2 linked regions of the Homo sapiens genome follow. The protein of the gene in region 1 interacts with the protein of each later gene in a pairwise test. Each region holds a gene or a part of one and is shown in the gene's direction. Other genes may lie near its edges.

The links.
Region 2: the proteins of PTPDC1 (region 1) and CRKL interact in binary tests that used the Homo sapiens proteins (3 or more experiments, as listed by UniProt).

What each region holds. Positions count from the first base shown.
Region 1 is NC_000009.12:94,104,877-94,108,528, forward strand, and holds part of PTPDC1 (protein tyrosine phosphatase domain-containing protein 1), read left to right. Parts: intron 1-2,951; coding exon 2,952-3,068; 3' UTR 3,069-3,652. UniProt on the Homo sapiens protein: May play roles in cilia formation and/or maintenance.
Region 2 is NC_000022.11:20,927,314-20,930,965, forward strand, and holds part of CRKL (crk-like protein), read left to right. Parts: intron 1-3,652. UniProt on the Homo sapiens protein: May mediate the transduction of intracellular signals.

The sequences.
Region 1 (3,652 bases):
CAGTTTTTCCTGGCTGAAGAAAGAAGAAGCAGCCAGGTTCATACTGAGAGAAAAGTTTCCCCTTACCCCATCAGCTATAATTTGTTTATTACTTCTCATTGATATGAAAGTATCTATAATTTGTTTGTTACCTCTCATTGATATGAAAGTGTCATTAAACAAAGAACCCAGCTTTTGAATGACAACATCTGTGGTAACATTAATGATAAGAAGTTATTATTTATACTCATTAACAAGTTATAAAGATTCTTCCTTTTTAATATTTGTCCAGTCTCCTTCCCCTCCACTCTTTCCGGAGTGATGTTCTTACTTCAGGCCTTCCTTGTTCCTCATCTGGATTCTATGGCACTAACCACTGACATCTTTTCAATCTGTTCTCCACTGTTTCCAGAGTCAGTAGTCTCAAATCCAAACCGCGTGGTCCTTTACATCTGTATTTACACTTTCATAGACTGAGAGGCTACCCACCATGTGAAGAAGGTTGTGGTTTGGTGTTTAAGAAAGTAAACAGAGCTGGGAGTGGTGGCTTACGCCTGTGATCCCAGCACTTTGGGAGGCTGAGATGGGTGGATCATGAGATCAGGAGATTGAGACCATCCTGGCCAACATGGTGAAACCCCATCTCTACTAAAGTACAAAAATTTAGCTGGGCATGGTGGTGTGCGCCTGCAGTCCCAGCTACTCAGGAGGCTGAGGTGGAAGAATGGCTTGAACCCGGGAGGTGGAGGTTGCAGTGAGCCGAAATCGCGCCACTGCACTCCGGCCTGGCAACAGAGCGAGACTCTGTCTCAAAAAAAAAAAAAAAAAAGTGGCCAGGCATGGTGGCTCAAGCCTGTAATCCAAGCACTTTGGGAGGCCAAGGTGGGCAGATCACGAGGTCAGGAGATCAAGACCATCCTGGATAACATGGTGAAACCCCATCTCTACTAAAAAGAAATACAAAAAAATTAACTGGGTATGGTGGCAGGCGCCTGTAGTCCCAGCTACTCGGGAGGCTGAGGCAGGAGAATGGTGTGAACCCGGGAGGCGGAGCTTGCAGTGAGCCAAGATTGCACCACTGCACTCCAGCCTGGGCGACAGAGCAAGACTCCATCTCAAAAAAAAAAAAGTAAACAATTCACACCATTATTAATGTTAATAAGGAGTTTTTTGCAAAGGGGATAGATAATATAGTTATAGATAAAATTAAATTCCTGAGCTTAACTGAAAAAAATCCTTACGATTGGTCTCTCTGAAAGCAGTAGGAATTCTTTACAACTTCTTTTGGCCTTTTAAGGGGATACGAATGAAAAGTTAGAGATAACAGTTGTTCAAAATCTGTCTATAGAAAATGTTAGGAGACAGTTTTCCTTGGGTCTCTCATGTCTCTTCATAGTCTGATGAGCAGATGCCCTGACCACTCTCTTTGAGGATCAACTCTTCACTAATGTCTGGAGAGCTCTGCCTGGAGAGCAGAAGGCACACGTTCTGACTTCCAGGATAATAAAAATGTTTCCCTTCAGGGCAAAGGTTGGCAGATTTGCTTGCAGCCCCCTTGTGAAACATTGGAGTTTCCTAAGCTTGGGGCTCCTCAGCTATGAGGCAAACCCCGTGCTTGTGCAGCCTCCACCTAGGCCCTTCTGCATTGCCTCCATGAGACTTGAGAGACAAGGAGAACCCATGTGAACATGAAGCACATGCAGCTGTGAGAAATAAAAGTTGTCTGTCTCTGACCCAGGAATCTCGTATCTTCTACCAGTATCCATAACACTGGCAAGCTAACAGGTTAAGGTCTCAGATCCTTTACAGTTGTTGACAGAGGGAACAACCTTTCATTTGTCAAAATTTATCAGAGAGGGAGAAATTCCAGAAGCAGAGAAGCAGTGATTGTGTGACCCTGATTCTTTCCCAGGGAGTTACACATTACTCTGGGAATGGGGTTGAGGGTGGGTACTTGCTCTGGTTCTCTGTCCTGCCATCACTGCTAACCCAGAGTATGGTAAACTTGGGTGAAAAATGCAAATATGTGTAAATAGTGCGCTCCCATCAAGGGGAAAGGAAATTTACTTTATCAAGGTGGGGTTTGTTTGTTTGTTTGTTTGTTTGTTTGTTTTTTGAGACAAGGTCTCACTCTGTCACCCAGTCTGGAGTGCAGTGGCACAATCTCAGCTCACTGCATCCTCTGCCTCCTGGGCTCCGGCAATCCTCCCACCTCAGCCTCCCAAGTAGCTGGGACTACAGGCATGTGCCACCATGCCTGGCTAAATTTTTAATTTTTTGTAGAGATGAGGTTTTGCCATGTTGCCCAGGCTGGTCTCAACCTCCTGGGCTCAAGCAACTCTCCCACCTCGGCCTCCTAAAGTGCTGGGATTACAGGCATGAGCCACCACACCCAGCCAGTTGAGGTTTGTATATATGTGCCAAACATGTTAGACTCATAGATACGCTATCCTATGAAGGTGGGTATCATTATCTCTGTTTTACAAAGGAGGAGATCAAGGTCCAGAGAGGTTGGGTATGAGATGAGGACATGTAGCTGGCAGGTGGGGAGCTGGGCTTCTATTCAGGTCACTCTGACCCTGTCCAGAGTGGCCGTAGGGCCTCTCAGCAGGACGTATACAGCTGATGTGCTGTTTTAATATGGGAAACTTTTCTCTTATACCATCAATGATTAGTCTCAAAAAATTCACTTCACACCCACTGTTGACTTGCTTCATGACTGGGTGTATATAATTAGACTAAATATCCAGGCACTAGATTTAATTTTGGGGTTTTCATTCATAAGTTTGATATTGACATGGTTGGCAGTTCTAATAGTCTTTCAAATAAAATGTGTGAAATTTATTATGTGTATTTTATATAGAGTTTTGTTTGTAAGTCTGTTTTTTTTCTCCACCCCCTCCTTCTCTCAAAATAGAAACTAGTTCAAATTCTTGTTACAGTGTCCTGAATATAAATTTCTTTGTCACCAGGTTAATTTTGATTCTGAAAATGGACCAACAGTTTACAACACCCTGAAGAAAATATTTAAGCACACGCTGGAAGAAAAAAGAAAAATGACAAAAGATGGCCCTAAGCCTGGCCTCTAGCTTTCACTCGTGGTGAATATTTCAGACCTAAAGATCCAGATAGTATCTCTGTTCATATGTGAATAAGTTGAAGATTGTGGGGCTACTTTTTCTCATAGCACTTTATTTTGAATGTTGTTAGTTTGTGCTGAGAATGGTCGTCCGTATTTGAACCAATTATTTATTTTAAAATATATTTAAGCTACATTTTTGTTTTGAAAAATTGCCATAAATTTGGTGCCACTTTCTTTTATTTATTTGACTGAGTTAATATTATTGTATTAACATTTTAAGTATATGGTGTTTACATTCTTATTTCTTTTGACATTTTGGAAATAATCATAACTTGTCTTTCCAAAATAACCATTTTCTTGATGGAACTCTTCCTAGAGTTTTTACCAAATAGCTAACTTTAGTAGTAAAACCTCATTGTGTATCCATTCCCCCACAGATGAACTAAGAAAGTCACCAAGTGTCTTAAGCTGTTTTATATTTGTTACGAAGAAGGCTATTGCTACAATATTTTTAAAGGTTTCTTTTTTAACTTTGAAATTTTTTGTTTTTCCTTTTCTTTTTATAAATGTAACAGAGGGTTTCAAAGCATA
Region 2 (3,652 bases), on another chromosome or scaffold:
CTGAGTAGCTGCGATTACAGGCGCCCACCACCATGCCCGGCTAATTTTTGTATTTTTAGTAGAGATGGGGTTTCACCATATTGGACCAGGCTGGTCTCAAACTCCTGACCTCAGGTGATCCAATTGCCTCGGCCCCCTAATGTGCTGGGATTACAGGCATGAGCCAGTCACCACGCCCAGCTGGAATTAAGTTTTCTACCTTTTTTTTTTTTTTTTTAACTGTGAAATATTTCATACATAGAAAAGAGTAAGGGTGCCGTGGCTCACGCCTGTAATCTCAGCACATTGGGAAGCCAAGACAGGTGGATCACTTGAGGTCAGGAGTTCGAGACCAGCCTGGCCAACGTGGTGAAACCCTGTCTCTACTAAAAAGACAAAAATTAGCCGGGCGTGGTGGTAGATGCCTGTAATCCCAGCTACTTGGGACGCTGAGGCAGGATAATTGTTTGAACCCGGGAGGTGGAGGTTGCAATGAGTTGAGATCGCACCATTGCACTCCAGTCTGGGTAACAGAGCAAGACTCTGTCTCAAAAAAAAAAAAAAAAAAAAAAAAGGAAAAAGAGTAAGCCTGGGCACGTTGGCTCATGTCTGTAATCCCAGCACTTTGGGAGGCCGAGGGAGGCAGATCACTTGAGGTCAGGAGTTTAAGACCAGCCTGGCCAGCATGTGAAACCCATCTCTGTTAAAAATACAAAATTAGCCCGGCAGTAGTGGGGCCCTGTAATCCCAGCTACTGGGGAGGCTTAGGCACAAGAATAGCTTGAACCCAGGAGGCAGAGGTTTTGGTGAGCTGAGATCACACCACTACACTCCAGCCTGGGCAATAGAGTGAGACTCTGTCTCAAAAAAAAAGTATATGTAAGCTGGGTGTGGTGGCATGCACCTGTAGTCCCAAATAGTGGGGAGGCTGAGGTAGGAGGATTGCTTGAGCCCAGGAGTTCAAGACCAGCCTGGGCAACATAAACCCCCATCTCTGCAAAAAATTAAACAAGGATTGGCTGGGCATGGTGGCTCATGCCTGTAGTCCCAGCTACATGGGAGGCTGAGGTGGGAGGATCACTTGAGCCTGGGAGGTCAAGGCTATAGTGAGCCATGATCGTACTGCTGCACTCCAGCCTGGGCCATAGAGCAAGACGCTATCTCAAAAAAATTTACAAAACAAGCCAAAAAAAACTATCATCTGTGTGCTCCCTTTAAAAAATAAATAAATAAAACATTGGCCAGGCGTGGTGGCCCAGACTGTAATCCCAGGACTTTGGGAGGCTGAGGTGGGAAGATTGCTTGAGCTCAGGAGTTCAAGACCAGCTTAGACAACATGGCAAGACCCTGTTTCTACCAAAAATACAAAAATTAATCGGATGTGGTGGCATGCACCTGTAGTCCCAGCTACACAGAAGGCTGAGGTGGGAGGATCGCTTGAGCCTTGGAGGTTGAGGCTGCAATGAGCCATGATTGTGCCTCTGCACTCTAGCTCGGGCAACAGAACGAGATCCCATCTCAAAAAAAAAAAAAAAAAAAAAAAAAGGAATATTACCAGCACCTTTGAAACTTCCTTTTTCTAGAAGTTGATTGTATTGGTTCTTAGCATGCATAAGGAGATTTTAAGCTTAGAACATATTAGCACTTGGTTTAAAGATGTTTTGTGTATGGTTTATACATGTAGAAACTGAGAACGCTTTTAACCAAAAGAGCTGAGAGATTCGTTATCATCAGAAAAGAAAAGTCAGTTACGAATTAGTTGTTAGGGGCTTTGCTGCTCAAAGTGTGTAGTGGACAATAGGCAAAAAGTGAGAAGCATGGTCAAGGGTGTTTGGATGGGCTTGAAAACCCTGTGCATTTTATTTTATTTTATTTTATTTATTTATTTTTGAGTCGGAGTCTCACTCTGTTACCCAGACTGGAGTGCAGTGGCGCGATCTCGGCTCACTGCAAGCTCTGCCTCCCGGGTTCACACCATTCTCCTGCCTCAGCCTCCCGAGTAGCTGGGACTACAGGCGCCTGCCACCACGCTCAGCTAATTTTTTTGTATTTTTAGTAGAGATGGGGTTTCACTGTGTTAGCCAGGATGGTCTCGATCTCCTGACCTCTTGATCCGCCCGCCTTGGCCTCCCAAAGTGCTGGGATTACAGGCGTGAGCCACTGCACCTGCCTTATCTATTTAATTTTTTGAGACGGAATCTCTGTCTGTCGCCCAGGCTGGAGTGCAGTGGCATGATCTCAGCTCACTGCAACCTCCGCCTCCCGGGTTCAAGCAATTCTCTTGCCTCAGCCTCCCAAGTAGCTGGGCCTACAGGCACACGCCACCACACCTGGCTAATTTTTGTATTTTAATAGTGACAGGGTTTTGTCATGTTGGCCAGGTTGGTCTCAAACTCCTGACCTCATGATCCACCTGCCTCGGCCTTCCAAAGTGCTAGGATTGCAGGCATGAGCCACTGCGCCTGGGCAACACTTTATATTTTAAAGGGAAGTTGGGGGAGGGTGCTATTTTCAACCTTGCTCAAAGAACAAATAATTGGGAAGCAATAAATTTTCTGATGAATATGCTTCATATTTCTTTAGACAGTGGGGTCTAATGGAAAGGCTAAGATATCTGACATGGAGCAACATGTATTTATCTCTTCAGTGGAACTAATGTGTAATTTTCAGGGGAGTTTGATGAATAAATGAGTTTGAGAATATAGGGCAGAGGACTTGGAATTTGTGTCAGGGTTATGGCTGGTGAGATTGATTTGGTGTCAAATTTATGAATATCTCTGCAGATACTAACACAGAAAATGAGCCCCAAGGTCACTATAGCAGTATAGTAGTGGAGGGAAATAGAAACTATCTTTATCAAATTTCTACACAGACATACCCCTCACCAGGGAAGCAAGGAAGTTGAAAAGCACACTTTGCCTCCCTAACCCAGGAATTTAGATGGGGGATCAGCAAACTGTTGAGTAAAGGGTCAGATTTTAAATATTTTCAGCTTTTCCATAGAGTCTCTGTCCAACTACTCAACTATGCCTTTGTAGTGAAAAACAGTCATAGACAATACGTAAATGAATGGGCTTGGCTATCTTCTTTTTTTTGTTTGTTTTTAAGATGGAGTCTTGCTCTGTCACCCAGGCTGGAGTGCAGTGGTGTGATCTCAGCTCATTGCAACCTCTGCCTCCCAGGTTCAAGCAATTCTCTTCCCTCGGCCTCCCAAGTAGCTGGGCCTACAGGCGCACGCCACCACACCTGGCTAACTTTTGTATTTTTAGTAGTGACAGGGTTTTTTGTCATGTTGGCCAGGTTGGTCTTGAACTCCTGACCTCAAGTGATCCTCCCGCCTCGGCCTCCCAGTGTTGGGATTACAGGCGTGAGCCACCACACGCCTGGCTTTTTTTTTTTTTTTTTTTTTTTTTTTTTGAGATAGAGTCTTAACTGTTTCAGGCAGTGACGTGATCTTGGCTCACTGCAAGCTCCGCCTCCCGGGTTTACACCATTCTCCTGCCTCAGCCTCCCGAGTGGCTGGGACTACAGGCGTGTGCCACCACACCTGGCTAATTTTTTGTATTTTTAGTAGAGAGACAGGGTTTCACCGTGTTAGCCAGGATGGTCTCAATCTCCTGACCTTGTGATCCGTCCACCTCAGCCTCCCAAAGTGCTGGGATTACAGGCGTGA